Homo sapiens: one gene and its partners. The protein of the gene in region 3 interacts with the protein of the main gene of each other region in a biochemical or structural test. Each region holds a gene or a part of one and is shown on either strand. Other genes may lie near its edges. The genes, in order: ERCC6, HDAC6, CSNK2A2, FGF2 and MGMT.

What was found.
Region 1: the proteins of CSNK2A2 (region 3) and ERCC6 form a complex in vitro, tested with the Homo sapiens proteins (one large-scale study listed by BioGRID).
Region 2: the proteins of CSNK2A2 (region 3) and HDAC6 form a complex in vitro, tested with the Homo sapiens proteins (one study listed by BioGRID).
Region 4: the proteins of CSNK2A2 (region 3) and FGF2 form a complex in vitro, tested with the Homo sapiens proteins (one study listed by BioGRID).
Region 5: of the proteins of CSNK2A2 (region 3) and MGMT, one has a biochemical effect on the other in vitro, tested with the Homo sapiens proteins (one study listed by BioGRID).

The regions. Positions count from the first base shown.
Region 1 is NC_000010.11:49,522,034-49,525,724, forward strand, and holds part of ERCC6 (DNA excision repair protein ERCC-6), read right to left. Parts: intron 2,745-3,691; coding exon 2,000-2,744; intron 1-1,999. UniProt on the Homo sapiens protein: Involved in repair of DNA damage following UV irradiation, acting either in the absence of ERCC6 or synergistically with ERCC6. Involved in the regulation of gene expression.
Region 2 is NC_000023.11:48,804,970-48,808,660, forward strand, and holds part of HDAC6 (protein deacetylase HDAC6), read left to right. Parts: intron 1-468; coding exon 469-553; intron 554-661; coding exon 662-702; coding exon of another isoform or gene 703-706; exon of another isoform or gene 707-1,398; coding exon 1,399-1,495; exon of another isoform or gene 1,496-1,639; coding exon 1,640-1,737; exon of another isoform or gene 1,738-1,991; intron 1,992-3,063; coding exon 3,064-3,168; intron 3,169-3,288; coding exon 3,289-3,357; intron 3,358-3,691.
Region 3 is NC_000016.10:58,157,247-58,160,137, forward strand, and holds the end of CSNK2A2 (casein kinase II subunit alpha'), read right to left. Parts: exon of another isoform or gene 1,108-2,891; 3' UTR 661-1,107; downstream 1-660.
Region 4 is NC_000004.12:122,895,755-122,898,898, forward strand, and holds the end of FGF2 (fibroblast growth factor 2 isoform 18 kDa), read left to right. Parts: 3' UTR 1-1,869; coding exon of another isoform or gene 1,870-1,924; 3' UTR 1,925-2,482; downstream 2,483-3,144. Other genes in the region: NUDT6 (nucleoside diphosphate-linked moiety X motif 6), read right to left, coding at 1,870-1,924. UniProt on the Homo sapiens protein: Acts as a ligand for FGFR1, FGFR2, FGFR3 and FGFR4. Also acts as an integrin ligand which is required for FGF2 signaling. Binds to integrin ITGAV:ITGB3.
Region 5 is NC_000010.11:129,470,174-129,473,864, reverse strand, and holds part of MGMT (methylated-DNA--protein-cysteine methyltransferase), read right to left. Parts: intron 1-3,691. UniProt on the Homo sapiens protein: Involved in the cellular defense against the biological effects of O6-methylguanine (O6-MeG) and O4-methylthymine (O4-MeT) in DNA. Repairs the methylated nucleobase in DNA by stoichiometrically transferring the methyl group to a cysteine residue in the enzyme.

The DNA of each region.
Region 1 (3,691 bases), on a different chromosome or scaffold from region 3:
CAGTAAAAGGTGTTAAGTTCAGCAAAGGGTGCCTACCCTGGGAACTACTCCTAAATTCTAACCACTAAAAAAAAACTAATTTTCTATGTTGTAAACTCTATGACTTTATTCTAATCATCCATCGTCAAACCACTGCTAAGACAAGCAACCCTAAAGGTCTTTCTGTTTCTCAAGGGAATAGCATTACCATTTCAATTAGTCTACAAAGATCAGCAATGAGTAACAAAATATAGAGAGACTGGCAGTTCTAATATGCTTCTCAATCCTGAGCATTTTATTTTCTTTCATCCCCCAAACCAAACAGCACCAAAGGAGATGTAATAACAAATATTTCAATGTGGATATCTGCAGTTTAACAGCCTTAATAACTGTAGCTATAAAATGTTAAGAGCTATCGTATTTTGGTGGCAATTAAGAGTTATTGATATTTCTGAAATTCATTTGAGATTTCACTGTAGCTTTAGCAAAATATTGGCTCTGGAAATAATAAATTGTTTTACAATCTTAACATTATTAAGAAAAACTTATTGCCATCAAATTAACTAAACCCACATTTAAAATTCAATCAAAATAAATTGCTCTTGATCAAAATACTGATATATTTTAAACATATTTAATATTGACCCAATTTAATTGGAAAAATATATATTGCTCCATTTATAATCAATATGTTGAGATTAACACTTTTATTAATTCCTTGCAGTAGTTAAGAAAAAGTCTGACACCGCTCACTGTTCAAGAGTACTGGGCAACATTCCTCAAACAACTTCACAGGTAATAAACGTGCACAGAAACGAAAGCTGTGCTGAGGGATGACAAATATAAGCCAGCCCTCATCTGTGCATTACTACATAAGGTGCTACTAGAATGTGAGTGCCGCAACTCTAAAGAACAGGATTTAAGTCACAGGTCCTCAAATTACTGTTTAAAAGAATTGACACATCTATTTCGGAAAGGTTATGGAATGTCTGTAGTGTCTGGACGGGGGTTAATGAGCAGTTCTAAGTAACAAGAAAAAACACCAGGTCAACCTTCACTCACAAAGGCCAATAAATACAACAAACTAGGTCTCTTCACCTTGAGAAATAAGAAAAAACTGTTGAGGATTGGGAAAAAGCCATCCCACTATCAAGTATTTTAAAAGTAATAAGGTTCCTTTTTCCCTTTGACTTCCTTAGAGCTAAGTGAGCTCTAAGTCAAGGAGACTTGAAATGCGCGGCAGTAGCACAGTGTTCAGTGGGCCACCATGGGGAGGCCTGCAATACAGATTATTTTTCCTGGCTCTCAGAAAACGTGTGGCAATATGCAATTCAGACTTCATGTTTCACATGTTCACCTTCCCTTTTATGGTGCTTGCTTTATACAATGACAATGTCATGGAGCTAAAAGCCAAAGTCAGTCTCTAACATAAAAAACAACAGTGAAAAGAAAGGTATGCTGTGCATACAAAGTACACTTTTTGCATGATGGTGGCTTATAATTATGCAGATGACTATTTTCTCAAGACAAAGGAAGGATTTACAAAAGCAAGCTTATTCTTTCTATGCCAAAGCTTAAGTTTCAGCTCTTTTTTGAAGAAAAGTTCTCTAAAATTACTTTCCTGCTTCAAAAGGGAAAACAGAAACCCCTATCCAGTATGCATTAATTCACCCTTTTCTTTTTCCTGATACTCATTCTAGGGTGACTGTCGGTATAAAGGCGACACAGCTCACACTCAGCCCTCTGTATGCCTCTTGCCCCAGCCTTCCCTTAAGTTTTTCATCTTAGACTTGCCTCCAAATCCAACTAAAGACCTAGAAGTACATGCATTTGGGGCCAGCATCATTAAGGACTCAGGGGCCCCACTGCTTCTAGCAGGTTAAGGCTGCAGAAATCCAACCTCTGTATAATCGGGGGGGTCTAATATATTAAGCTGGATCTAGAATGCTTACATATTAATAAACCTGTCACCTAAGATAAAGCAAACAGTACAATGTATTTATAATCCCCACAGACCGACCTTAACCGCTGCTTATAATAATCTTCATCTCCATCATCTCGGTATCTTCCCACTTTCCGACCTCCTCCTCCTCCTTCTCCTACAGAAGCAGCTTCAGCTTCTTCCCCAGAACTTGGGAAAAAGTCATCATCAATCTCCTGCACTGGCACTTTCTTCTGCCGTTTCCCGCCCTTGGGCAGAGGCTTCAGCTCATAGTCAGTACCATCTCCAGACAGGTCCGCCTCTGCCCCCTCCACCTCGTCATCTTCCTCCTCTTCCTCCTCCTCTGTGGGGAAATACTCAGACTCTTCACCCTCAGAGTCTCCCTCTGCCTCTGGCCTCATGTCTGACTCCCAAGGTCTCCTTGCCTTTGGCAATCCCACTTTCCCCTGGAACTGCAAAGCCCTCTTCTGGAGTTTCTTGATGTGCTTTTTCAAACGCTCCTCTTTTTTGGACAGAACTCTGGCTTTCTTGTTTGGTTTGTTTTTATTTTGCACTGGGGCTGGAGGCGTGACTGGGGCTGGAGCTTTTCTAGCTGCTCTTTTATTACAACCTTGCTTCTTCCTTTCAAAAGACAGTTTTGCTTGATCTGCCAAATACTTTTCGAAGCCTGATGCTTCATTAAGCATGATTTTTCTGGGCTTTTTCTCCTGTTTCTGAGGGATCTGGGTACCAAAAGGTGTCATCTGGCCAGTGCGGATGAGCTCTTCCCAGGCAGTCTCCTGGACAGGCATGAGCATGCTGCCAAGACTGGATGGCCCCGGCTCTGAAAGAACAATAGCAATGCGTTTCGCACTAGCATGAAACTTTCCGAGGGTACAAAAGAAATGCTCACTCTTTCAAGAAATATTAGGCAGCTACAAATAACTCATATAAAAAAAGAATCATCCATGTACTAAAGCATGTTACATATGAAGGACAGAATAAAATTATAGCATCATGCTATATTTAATATATTCCTGTTCAAAAAGACAACTTCTCAGTAACTTTTCCCCAAAATATTTCACTATAAATATACTCTCTGCCATCCAAAGATAGGCTTATTACTGTATAAATACAGTTATAAATAGTCAAGTTTAGCTGTGTTTCCTTATCAGCTGAGTAGTCGTCCATGAGGAAGCAAGCTCCGAAGTTCTCACGTCATTGCTAAAACCAACATTCAGATGGACTTAAATTCAAGAGACAGTAAAACCAAAAACAGGGATCACCATGTACCTAAAAAGGAAAAACATAAATGTCAGCTCTATGCTGCCCAGCATGGCAGTTACCAGTCACCTGCAGCTATTTAAATTTAAATTACATTAAGTTAAAAACTCAGTTCCACAGTTGCATTTGCCCTTTTTCAAGTGCTCAAGAGCTACACGTGACTAATGGCTACTATAATGGGCAACACAGAGAACATTTTCATCACTGCAAAAAGGTCTATTGGACAGCAGCACTGTGTTAGATATGTGAAGTTAACTGACTTGAAGACATTACACCATAAGTGTAAAGTCACCAGAAAGTATCCCTCTTTCATTAGTTGAAATTCATCTCTGGCAAAATTACCACATAACCAAAATACCAAAAGACCTAAGGCTTAATAGGAAGGAATCCATATTCTAAAATCTACAATTCTTGCAGGCCAATGATACCCAGTTTTTCATTAAACTTGCACTGAAATAAAACATACATCTGAAAGTGCACAAATCATTAAGTGTAGAACTCAGTGAA
Region 2 (3,691 bases), on a different chromosome or scaffold from region 3:
TCAACTGAGAACCAGGGAAGAGACCAGTGTAGGTGAAGCGAAGCAAAGGAAAGAGGGAGGGGTAGGAGATGGGGTCAGAGAGGTGATGGAGGACAGATTGTTTAGGGCCTTCTGGGCATGGGTAATACTTTGGCTTTTACTCAGAATGGGATGGGAGCCTCGAAGGGACATGAACTGATTAGGGTTTTAACCAGTGTCTAGCTGCTATGCACAGAAAGGACCGTTGAGGTGGCGAGGGTCGAAGCAGGGAGGCCGAGGAGATGCCGCCACAGCCCAGGCGGGAGGGTATGGTAATAGCAGTGGCAGTGGTGAGGAGAGGGTCACACACCAGAGCTGATGGGAGGCAGGACTGACACCACAGTTTTGGGGTAAGCAGCTGTGGAAGGGTGGATGGGGAGATGTGGAGAGAACAGATGTGGAGCTCCCCAGTGTCCTCATGCATCTGTGACTGTGACTCCATCTCCCCAGCTTCCCGGAAGGCCCTGAGCGGCTCCATGCCATCAAGGAGCAACTGATCCAGGAGGGCCTCCTAGATCGCTGCGTGTCCTTTCAGGTAAGGCCCCCAAGCCAACACTCTGGGTGAAGGGCAGGGAGCTGACCTGACCTGGGTGCAGCCCATGCCTTAACCCTTTACCCCACTTTATTCCTCATCTCTCCCCAGGCCCGGTTTGCTGAAAAGGAAGAGCTGATGTTGGTTCACAGGTGAAGGCTTGGGAGCCTTGTAGGGATGGGGAGGAGCCTGCCCTGGACAAACCAGGGCAAGCTAAACGCTTTGGGAAGCAATGTCATGGTCTCTGCAGCCAGCCTTGGGCAAGTCGCTGAGCCTTTCTGAATCTGTGTCATCGCCTGTAACAAGGGGACCAGTAAACATAAGTTCCTCAGGAGAGTTTGATGTGTGTCAGGTGCTTAGAACAGGGCCTGATATATAATCAGCCCATGATGAGCTATTACTGTTATCATGATCTGATTGTGTGAATAGATGGTGGATGTGTGGACAGAGTGATCGGGGTTCCCCCAGGGGCTTCCAGATTTAGAGGCCTAGTGCTATGTGGCTTGAGGAAAGCTAGCTTCCAGAGCAGGTATCTGAGCTGAACTTTAAGAGGAGAAAAAGAGTGAGTCAGATGAAGAGGGTGACTGAGGGAAGGGAAGAACAGACAGCTGAACCAGTGTGGCCAAAGGCCTGAAAGTAGGATTTGGTGTGGCTACTGCAGGGGAGCAGAGAACATTACCTGAACTGAGGCGGGCTAGGGAAGAAACAGAATGTGTCTTATATCCTGGCTATTCCTTCAGGTTGACAGTTGGGGGAGCCAAGCCCTAATTTGACCAGGGGGTTGGTGTATGGACAGCTCAGTTGGGGAAGAGACAGGGCCCTGAATCTCATCTCCCATCTGTGTCTAGCCTAGAATATATTGATCTGATGGAAACAACCCAGTACATGAATGAGGGAGAACTCCGTGTCCTAGCAGACACCTACGACTCAGTTTATCTGCATCCGGTATGGATGAGAACTCTGCGGGCAGGGAATGGTGGCAATCTTGGGGTCCCCATCCCTATGCCCACCCCACCCTGGGGGAAGCAGCTGAGTGGATAGGGCTGTTCTCTCCCTTACTCCCTTTCTGGCTCCCCACTGTCTCTCCAGAACTCATACTCCTGTGCCTGCCTGGCCTCAGGCTCTGTCCTCAGGCTGGTGGATGCGGTCCTGGGGGCTGAGATCCGGAATGGCATGGCCATCATTAGGTAGGACTCTACAGCATTTGACTTTTTACATTGTTTTAAAGTCCTTCCTTCAAGTGTAAAATGTATTGATATGGGTAATATATTCATGTGATTCAAGAATCCAAAGGTAAAAAAGAGAATATAATTAAAAATCTGTCTCCCATCCTTGTCACCCAGACACCTGCCTCCTCTCATGGGAGGTAGTCATTGGAACCACTGACTCATGTGTCCTCCCACAAAGTCTTATTCAAGAAATAAATACCATATTTCATTGATTCTAAGGTGTACATTTTTTCATATTTGTAACATCTTGAAATCCAGATGCATCTTACAAACAGTGACATCTCAGAATTCCATTGGCAGTATTTTCTGCTTCGTTTTTGGCATGTAAAATCATGGTACATCTTATCATCATTGGCATCCCAGAACTGATGAAATGCAAAAGCTTTCTCCTCCCTCCCCTGTTTTTAACCACAAATGGTAGTAACATGACATACTCCCTTCGTACCATCTTTTCACTTACACATCTTGGAAACCTTTCTCTAACAGTATGTATCTTGGAGCCCGGTAGAACACCATTGTGTAAATGCACTCTATGTTAATCAGTCCCCGACTAATGGGCATTTTGGTTCTCCCCAGTCATTTGCTGTTTTAAAAAAATGCTACAGCAAATATGCTAGTACCTTTATAAAAATAAAATTTTATTTTACACTAACATAAAATAAAAATGTTACTTCACCCTTTTTAAAACACAGGTTGTGGGCTAAGTTCCTGCAGCAGAATGACTGGGTATGAGAATGAATGCGTTGATCATTTTATTTTTATTTTTATTTATTTATTTATTTTGAGACGGAGTCTCGCTCTGTCACCAGGCTGGAGTGCAGTGATGCAATCTTGGCTCACTGCAACCTCTGCCTCCCAGGTTCAAGTGATTCTCCTGCCTCAGCCTCCCAAGTAGCTGGGACTACAGTCGCCCGCCACCACACCCAGCTAATTTTTTGTATTTTTAGTAGAGACGGGGTTTCACCGTGTTGGCCAGGATGGTCTTGATCTCTTGACCTCGTGGTCCACCCACCTCGGCCTCCCAAAGTGCTGGGATTACAGGCCTGAGCCACCGCACCCGGCCTTTATCATTTTAGTGAACATTTTCAAATCTCCTTTGGAGACAGAGGGGTAGATTGGCAGGGGGTGAGAGTTTGAGGGCCTCCATTACTCAGTTCCCGGCAGATTTTTAGGCATCAGCATTAAAGGAATTGGTGGTCCAGGATTAGAGAGCAGGGGACAGTCTGTCTCTGCAGAGGAGGACCCCTCACATACTCCAAGCTGTTATTTCCTTGTCTTGCCCAGGCCTCCTGGACATCACGCCCAGCACAGTCTTATGGATGGCTATTGCATGTTCAACCACGTGGCTGTGGCAGCCCGCTATGCTCAACAGAAACACCGCATCCGGAGGTCAGCAACAGAGGGCAGATGTGATGGGGGTGGCATGGGGTGGGGTGTCCTGGTCTGGGCTCTTCCCCCAGATTCACCTTGATCTCCTTGCACAGAGTCCCCTCTCTCTGCTGCTCCTAGGGTCCTTATCGTAGATTGGGATGTGCACCACGGTCAAGGAACACAGTTCACCTTCGACCAGGACCCCAGGTATACCCCGACTCCCACCTAGGTGCTAGACTCCCAGCCACCTCCCACCCTTACAGGCCCAGCCAGAAGGGGTCCAGAAGGAGGAAAAGGCATTCACATTCATGGGGCCTATCCTGGGATCAGGATCTGTGCTACTTTTGTGTGTCTGCCATCTCTCCTAATTTCACTCTGAGGCAGGGACTGTTGGGTTCCCTATTTTACAGATAGGGGGACTGAGGCTTATACGTTAAGAGGTCACACAGAGAAGAACTGGGAGAGACGGGATTTGACCCACAAATATTTGAAGATCTTATTCACTGATTAACCGTTGGGTTAGAGTGAACCTCAAATTACT
Region 3 (2,891 bases):
CCAAGAAAGGGCCAAGGCATCTTCCTGCATTCACAGGAGGTGACTCTCATTTGAAGGAGAGGCCAGGGAGGATGCTGGCCAGTTGGAATGTGTTCAAGGCAAAGCCCCACTTTCCTGGCTGAGTCTACTTCAGCCATCCATATTGTCCCCATTCCTAGGACTGGTTCACTGTGTACCTCTTAACACCACTCAGCTCTGGAAGAGAGTCCTTACAAACGGGCCCTCCTTGGCTGAGTGTGGTGGCTCACACCTCTATGTAGACCCAGCACTTTAGGGGGACTAGGAAAGAGGATCACTTGAGTCAGGAGTTTGAGACCAGCCTGGGCCACGTGGCAAGACCATTTCTACAAAAAAAAAACTTAAGAAAACTTGTCAGGTGTGGTGGCATGCACCTGTAATCCCAGCTACTCAGGAGGCTGAAGCAGGAGGATCACTTGAGGCCAGGAGGCCGAGGCTGTAGTGAGCTATGGTTGCGCCACTGCACTCCAGCCTCCATGACAGAGCAAGACTGTTTAAAAACAAAAATGAAAACTGGCCCACCTTGTCCCAGGGACCTCCCCTGCTTCGTCTGGTTAGAACCTGGCACGAATGCGCTTTTGTCTCATCCTGAGTCACAGGCCTCAGTTCACGGCCCTTTCCATACTGAAAACTCTCCATACGTTTCTTTTAAAACCTTTTATTCAATAATATATACTTTTAAAATAATAATATGTAACTGCCGCCATGCCACATACTGCGCCCGTCCCCCCACTGTGGAGTCTGTGGTCAGCTAGTTAGCGTGGTTTGCTGGAAAAACAGGCGGCCACGGGACGAGTCGAGGGGCTCGGGGAGCAACAGTAACCAACAACATTCTGCATACCCTTCACATTCCCCATGCTTTCTGGGTCGGGAAGAAGTCAACAGGAAGCCAAAGGCAAGTGAGCCTTTTACATTCGGAAGTGAGGTTTGATATACGGTGGTGGGCTGCCCTTCGCTTGGTCTAGTTCGTGCTCGCCAAACCTGCCACCGTTTTGTGTCTGCTCACGGAACGTGATCTCTCTATACGCGTTAAGACGTTTGATTTGGTTCTTGTTCTGCTTATGGAAAAGTGGGAGAACCGCAACAGACCTGGGGAAAGAGACGGGAGGAGGGAAAGACGTCATTAATCAACCTGAGCGGGCGAGGGGAGGCCTCCACGTGTAGGAGGGCCTGTGCTAGAATGCAAGCTCGGCCCTCCCATGCCACTTGGTGGAGAACCCTGTGAGAACTCGCTGAGTTCAGGTTTCCAACAGTACCCTCTGCCTTCCTCTTCTGATTATCATGACAGAGATGGTCTCTAGCACGGCCTTCTGTCACAGGACGGGTGCTCTGGGCACCACGTGTGTTGTGACCAGGTCTTCCACTCTACCCCATCCCTCGGGTCCAGGGTGCTGATGGAGAAGCCTCAGAGCCTCTTGACCATTCTGTGCCAGTCAAGCTACAAATTCAGCAGTCAGCTCTAGGTCCCCCTCAGACCTGACCTGATTATCTGAGGTGTCTTAGGACTAAGACGGGGTCTGTATTTACTCAGAAAAAGGGCTGAGTCCACTAATAAACAAAGAGCAGTAAGTGAGCTCAAATATTTTTAACTCTCCCCTGGAAACAGCTAGCTGCCTGGCATGGCCTGAAAACCTCATTTCTCCTTCCAGGTCCAGCATAGCAAGTGGGTGGTGAGATGCCGGCAGTGGAATTCTAGAAGCAGTGCCTCCCAGAACAGCACTACAGTACTGAGGAAGGACTATGCACCTGGGAAGCTGTCACACACACAAAATCATTTCATGAAAACTTTCTTTGGGTAAAGGAAGGGTTCCACTGCGTAGTATTTGATTTGAGAAGGGCTGCATGGTGCATGAGGTTAAGAAAGAAATGACTATATTTGCCTTTAAACACTTCAGCTGATTCCAAGCACCCAACTTCAGAGGCTCAGTGAGAAGAAAGCACACTAATTAAAGAAAGCACATTAATTAAAGATACCACCACCTGCCAAATAATAGCATGTGCTGCAAGGAATGGGGCTAGGGAGAGTGTTTCACAAATGCAGAGCACCAGGCCACAAGGTTAAAGTCATGCACTAAAACAGTCAATCCCAAGAGGCAGGTGTCTGAGTGGCGCGACTCAGAAGCAAGTACATAAAAACGGAACACTCCCAACAGGACACCACTCTAGCCCCACTTCTGCCAAAGGAAAGTTTTCACATCAAGGTGTAACACACATCTTTGCAATTCAAGGTTTATCCCTCCCCTCTCCCCCAAAGAGACAGGAAATACAAGTTAAGGTCCTCATAGCAATGGTTTGTCTCCCACTTGGGAAGGCTGGTTATTGTCAACATTTTTATTTAAGAAAACAGGATTTAACATGGCATTTTTCTTCCCTCTAAGGGCAGCAGCACATAAATCATACATCAGTCATCCAGTGATACAAAGAGGTGGCCAATTGTGTCTGAAGTAGTCACTTGTAAAGGATCACAACCCAGGCAGTGTTGCTTTTCTGCAAACAGAAGGAAACAGAAGGCTCCATGGTCCTTGAAGATTATCCAAGTTTTCCACTAGTTGTCAAGATTTCTGTCCCAACCTCTTAGTCACCATTTACAGCAAGAAGAGCCAGCAAGTGAAAAACTGTTAATTTATTGATTCAAAGTTGTTTTTTTTCTTTTTAAAAAACAATCCCCAATACATGCAGTTCAGGGTTAAGTATCACATTTGTAGCACATTGTTGAGTCTCAAAACAAAAATATGCATCACCTGTATAATCCCATCACATCTTTTTCCAGCCTCTACAATACCTAGTTGGGGGTGTTTTCATTTATACATCCACATAGCTCAGAAGCATGTTATTAACGGTTGATCTGGCCCGATGCTTCTCCGCCACCTCCC
Region 4 (3,144 bases), on a different chromosome or scaffold from region 3:
ATTATGAAAGAATGAAGGAGTTCAAACAAATGTGTTTCCCAGTTAACTAGGGTTTACTGTTTGAGCCAATATAAATGTTTAACTGTTTGTGATGGCAGTATTCCTAAAGTACATTGCATGTTTTCCTAAATACAGAGTTTAAATAATTTCAGTAATTCTTAGATGATTCAGCTTCATCATTAAGAATATCTTTTGTTTTATGTTGAGTTAGAAATGCCTTCATATAGACATAGTCTTTCAGACCTCTACTGTCAGTTTTCATTTCTAGCTGCTTTCAGGGTTTTATGAATTTTCAGGCAAAGCTTTAATTTACACTAAGCTTAGGAAGTATGGCTAATGCCAACGGCAGTTTTTTTCTTCTTAATTCCACATGACTGAGGCATATATGATCTCTGGGTAGGTGAGTTGTTGTGACAACCACAAGCACTTTTTTTTTTTTTAAAGAAAAAAAGGTAGTGAATTTTTAATCATCTGGACTTTAAGAAGGATTCTGGAGTATACTTAGGCCTGAAATTATATATATTTGGCTTGGAAATGTGTTTTTCTTCAATTACATCTACAAGTAAGTACAGCTGAAATTCAGAGGACCCATAAGAGTTCACATGAAAAAAATCAATTTATTTGAAAAGGCAAGATGCAGGAGAGAGGAAGCCTTGCAAACCTGCAGACTGCTTTTTGCCCAATATAGATTGGGTAAGGCTGCAAAACATAAGCTTAATTAGCTCACATGCTCTGCTCTCACGTGGCACCAGTGGATAGTGTGAGAGAATTAGGCTGTAGAACAAATGGCCTTCTCTTTCAGCATTCACACCACTACAAAATCATCTTTTATATCAACAGAAGAATAAGCATAAACTAAGCAAAAGGTCAATAAGTACCTGAAACCAAGATTGGCTAGAGATATATCTTAATGCAATCCATTTTCTGATGGATTGTTACGAGTTGGCTATATAATGTATGTATGGTATTTTGATTTGTGTAAAAGTTTTAAAAATCAAGCTTTAAGTACATGGACATTTTTAAATAAAATATTTAAAGACAATTTAGAAAATTGCCTTAATATCATTGTTGGCTAAATAGAATAGGGGACATGCATATTAAGGAAAAGGTCATGGAGAAATAATATTGGTATCAAACAAATACATTGATTTGTCATGATACACATTGAATTTGATCCAATAGTTTAAGGAATAGGTAGGAAAATTTGGTTTCTATTTTTCGATTTCCTGTAAATCAGTGACATAAATAATTCTTAGCTTATTTTATATTTCCTTGTCTTAAATACTGAGCTCAGTAAGTTGTGTTAGGGGATTATTTCTCAGTTGAGACTTTCTTATATGACATTTTACTATGTTTTGACTACCTGACTATTAAAAATAAATAGTAGATACAATTTTCATAAAGTGAAGAATTATATAATCACTGCTTTATAACTGACTTTATTATATTTATTTCAAAGTTCATTTAAAGGCTACTATTCATCCTCTGTGATGGAATGGTCAGGAATTTGTTTTCTCATAGTTTAATTCCAACAACAATATTAGTCGTATCCAAAATAACCTTTAATGCTAAACTTTACTGATGTATATCCAAAGCTTCTCATTTTCAGACAGATTAATCCAGAAGCAGTCATAAACAGAAGAATAGGTGGTATGTTCCTAATGATATTATTTCTACTAATGGAATAAACTGTAATATTAGAAATTATGCTGCTAATTATATCAGCTCTGAGGTAATTTCTGAAATGTTCAGACTCAGTCGGAACAAATTGGAAAATTTAAATTTTTATTCTTAGCTATAAAGCAAGAAAGTAAACACATTAATTTCCTCAACATTTTTAAGCCAATTAAAAATATAAAAGATACACACCAATATCTTCTTCAGGCTCTGACAGGCCTCCTGGAAACTTCCACATATTTTTCAACTGCAGTATAAAGTCAGAAAATAAAGTTAACATAACTTTCACTAACACACACATATGTAGATTTCACAAAATCCACCTATAATTGGTCAAAGTGGTTGAGAATATATTTTTTAGTAATTGCATGCAAAATTTTTCTAGCTTCCATCCTTTCTCCCTCGTTTCTTCTTTTTTTGGGGGAGCTGGTAACTGATGAAATCTTTTCCCACCTTTTCTCTTCAGGAAATATAAGTGGTTTTGTTTGGTTAACGTGATACATTCTGTATGAATGAAACATTGGAGGGAAACATCTACTGAATTTCTGTAATTTAAAATATTTTGCTGCTAGTTAACTATGAACAGATAGAAGAATCTTACAGATGCTGCTATAAATAAGTAGAAAATATAAATTTCATCACTAAAATATGCTATTTTAAAATCTATTTCCTATATTGTATTTCTAATCAGATGTATTACTCTTATTATTTCTATTGTATGTGTTAATGATTTTATGTAAAAATGTAATTGCTTTTCATGAGTAGTATGAATAAAATTGATTAGTTTGTGTTTTCTTGTCTCCCATTTCTTTGTGTCTTCTTGTCTATGAATTCTTTTTTCTTTTTTTTTGTTGGGGAGGGGCAGGTGGAAAGATCTGATCTTGGAATAGGGATAAATATAGAAAAATGGATTAAAAACAATTATGAGATGACATGGACAATATTCTTATGGCTGACATGATTACTTTTCTTCCTGTTAGAGTTCTATCTATCCATCACGTGATAAAAGAAAAGAATGAGAAATTATAACATACTCATAAGGGAGCTGTACCTTTGGCTAGTACCCTATATTCTTCATTCATAAAATAAGTTATGGTCCTTTTACTGGTTTGCTTTGTGACACACTCATTTCCTGGATGAATGCTTCTTAAAAGAATGTGTCATTTCTCAACTATGCTAGGTTGGAGACCAGTGGCATGGTTCCCAGAGTTTCCATAGACTGTTGATTATGTGGGTACAGAATTCAGGCTTTCAGTGTCTGGGCTAGGCTTGACATTAATTTATAAAGGATATTATGCTTTACTTTATTAATGTAGAAATATATCTGTAAATATACCTCTATATCAATGCACTGTCTTCTAGATTCCATTTGGAAATATTCCCAGAAGGTTTATTTCTCCAGAAACTATGCAGTCTTTGTCTTGACAAGATGTTGAACTTTACCACCATAAATTCCATTTACTTTTT
Region 5 (3,691 bases), on a different chromosome or scaffold from region 3:
CTCTAGTGGGGTGCGGGGTAGGCACAAGGCACACGCAGGGACAGCTTTGCCATCCCCAAGTCCTCACTGCACCCAGCCTCAGCTACGGCTCAACGCCTTCAAGCAGGAATACACTTGGGCGAATTGCTTTTCCCACAATGCTAAAGACAACACTTGGTCACATTGATGTTCAGAAAACATTAGCTACATAAACAGGTCTGTGTCTGTTTACACCCTGTCTTGCCCCTTAAAGGACTTCTAACAGCTTCTCAGGCTCATCGTTGCAAAGCCAGCCTGGCACAAGTGGTTATGAGCCTGCACTTGGTTATCAAATAAATCTGGGTTGAAAACAAAACTCTACCTCTATCCCAGGAGACCTGTGCAAGTCACTCAAACTCTCCGAGGCCCGGGTTCCTCATATGCAAAATAAAGACACTCACAGCGCCTTCTCCTTCATGGGGTGGTGGTGAGCCTTTCCTAAGTTGGTCTGTACAAGGCAACAAGCGCAGCACGCCCAGAATAACCACCAGGGTGAGCTGAACCATGACAGGAGATTAAGGAGACACCCCAAATAAAAATAAGGCCCATTTCCACAAACACACGAAATGCTGCAGACTTCCCATTTTTGACCAAGTTTACCCAGCGGACCTGCGTTACCCCTCACTGCTGTGATCTAAACGGCCGTCACACATGGGAAAATACTGTCACATGCTGGTGTCACTGCTGGTTCCTGGCCACTGCCATCGTGTCAGATCCTGTGTCCGTCCTTTGGGAAGTTCTTTCAATATAACAGATGAATAATGTCAAGGCTCCCAGTGTCTCGGGCTATCAGCAACTGCCAAGTGCCCCTAGGAGCACACATGAAGCCCACCTGCCCACTCTAGGCCGATGTGGCACACCTGAACCTTTAGAATGCTGCCACGTCGAGAATGTCTACTGTGAAAAGACAGAAGCAGGTGGCAGAGCCAGTAGCCTCTTTACAGACAAAAGGACTTCAGGGACCTAGTAAATGAATAGGGAACTACCTTATGCTGCACACAGACAATGCACTGTGACCTCAGACGCACCAGAGGTGGCAAATGTGGCCAAGTGATCCCGACCTCCAGTCCTGCCTCCACCAAAACAGAGCGACTCTGCATCCGCAAACACCAACCGCCTTCATTCAGGCCTCCCCAGCGCCAGGCCTCCTTCTGGATGGGAACTGTCCCTGGCCCTGCTTTTGGAGAAATCTGGCCTTGGAAGGTTAAGTAACTCTGCTCAAGGGCACAGGATTGTAACTTGTAAAGCAGGTCCAAACGGAAGCCCATCTGTTCCCAGAAGGTGCACTTCTGACCACCGTGCACATGCCCCCAGTGAGGGCTTGGGTGTGTGCAGATCTGCAAAATACAGATTCGGATTGGACTGGGGGGAAAACGAGGGCTCGAAATGGTTCTTCGCCGTCTTCTCGTTTCATCCTTCCGTGAGACTCAGCTCCAAATTAAAATTTCTATCCATGTAGTGGATAGAAATTTTACTTTTAAAAAAATATGTATTTACTGTCTCGTGTGCCTATACTTACCCGGGTAGACCGAATAAGCATAATCGTCCCCACCCAATGGATGAGGAGGTGCCTGGAGGGCTAAGAGTTGCCCAGGGGGACCCAGCTAGGAAACAGCATCACTCCCACACACGGCCTGGCACTTCCTGTAGAAAAGCTCAATTCAGTCCCACAAAATGTATTCAGCTGTGCCTCTGAAAGTGCACCCTCACCTGAGACCAGGAAAATGCCTTGACCCAGAGGGGGATTAAAAACAAGACAACCCTCTCAAAAGGAAAGAAGGGGTGAAATATGATACGGGTTGCCCGTGCTTCGCGTGTGTTTGTAAAACTGACGCCAAAGTTTTGGTAACATCTGCATCTTGTCATAACCACAAAACTGAAAACTCAAAAGCAATAATAACATGTTGGGTTTGCAATTTGAAGAGATTCACGTCTCTCAGGAGTTACAAAACCGTACTCAGACCCATATGCACAGAAAACCTGCAGCAATGCCAACTGCCGATGGATACTTCTGGAAGGGGGACTCGGATCTTGCCTGGGCTGGAGAGTGCTACTTCCCAGAGGATCCTAAGGCCTTCCCTAGAGGTGCTCAAGCATTAGGGTCTGCCAGAATCCCCTGGCATCCCCAGGTTCTGGTCCTGTAGGTCTCCCATGGGGCCCTGCAATCGAGAGACCTCTCTAGCCAGCACCCACAGTAATTCTGATGCAGAGGGCCCAGGTCACCCTCAAACGCTCCTCCACTGTTGCCTGTGAAGATCCCACTTTACGGAGAGCAACAGGTTCAAGGGGCTGTGACTCGTCAGGCCTTGCTGGAATCGCATTCCAGTAGTGGCTCTTACCCCACACAAGCAGGAGAGACACCTGAACATGATATCCCCGGCTGCCCACCGGAGTCCTCTTGACTGGGAAGTACAATGTAGCTAAAAGTTTAAAAACAAATGATAAATAACTAGCGATTATTTATTGCATTTCAACATATAATGCCCCATCTCCTTCTCTGCCCTGAGATTCATTCACTCTCTTCACCCACCTAAATATCTCTGAACATCCCGTGCCAGAATTGCCTGATCCGTCAATAAGGCAAGCGCTTTCTAAACCTCTATGCATATGACTCAATTTGTCAGTAAAAACTGCCACCCGCGCTGTGCTTGCAGAAAAATGTCCATAAACACATTATTGCGACTGGCAGAACGATGTCTATAATAAAAACACATAGATTTAACAAGTACCTCCTTTCACAAGCCACGCCGCTGGTGGACTATCCATTCGGTGTCCCCCAGCCCAGACTTCTGGGAATGGGCGGCAGGGCTGGGTGGGAGCCTCTGCTGACTTCGCAAGCATCACAGGTAGGAAATTATTCTACCAAGAAACTTTTAGGAGTAGGAGAGTGAACACACCAGGCATTTATTGCACTCTCACCATTCCTTTCATGGTTACACACACTATGACTAATTTAACAACCCTAAGAAAATGTTTTTGTAGAATTTTTTACTGGTTTTAGAACAGCTACCTCCAGGTGGGGTGAAGGGGACACGAGGCCTCCTTGGAGAACCCTGCTCTGCTGCTGAGCCACTGATTTAACTGAAAACAACTTGTGGTGTCAAAACCAAGTTTCACCATTCAGAGCATCCGCATGGGCAGCTCCCAGGGCGGCCTATTCAGTTACTTAGCTGGAGGAGCTTCGGGAGCGCAGGCTGCTGAGGACTGGCTTTGCTGCCGGGACCGAGCACCTTGGCAGGACTCAGTGTTTGATTCCTTTCCGGGTGATCCACACCTGCCAAAGCCACTCTAATACTTCAAAGATCAACAAAGTCACAAAAATGATTTCTTCCTCTTCATAAATCACTTCAATAGCTCTATGAAGAAGTCAGTCATTCATTACATTCCATACTATATTCATTAGTTTCCCCCAAACTATGCAGCCCTCCGATATAAGCTGTACTGTTAATTTTTTTAAGTCAAAAGAAAACTAGACTATGTCCACCAACCAGCAGATATGCAGCAGTTAATGAAAAGCCACAGAACACACATCTTGCAACATTTGGTCCACAACACAAGGTCTCCAACTTCTACTTACCTATGTCCAAGACAGGCCTGCAGAGCTAACAGCGTAGGTTCACAAAATCCTCATGCCAACCAAGGACCCTCCTGCACAGCTCAAACCTCCTCCCTC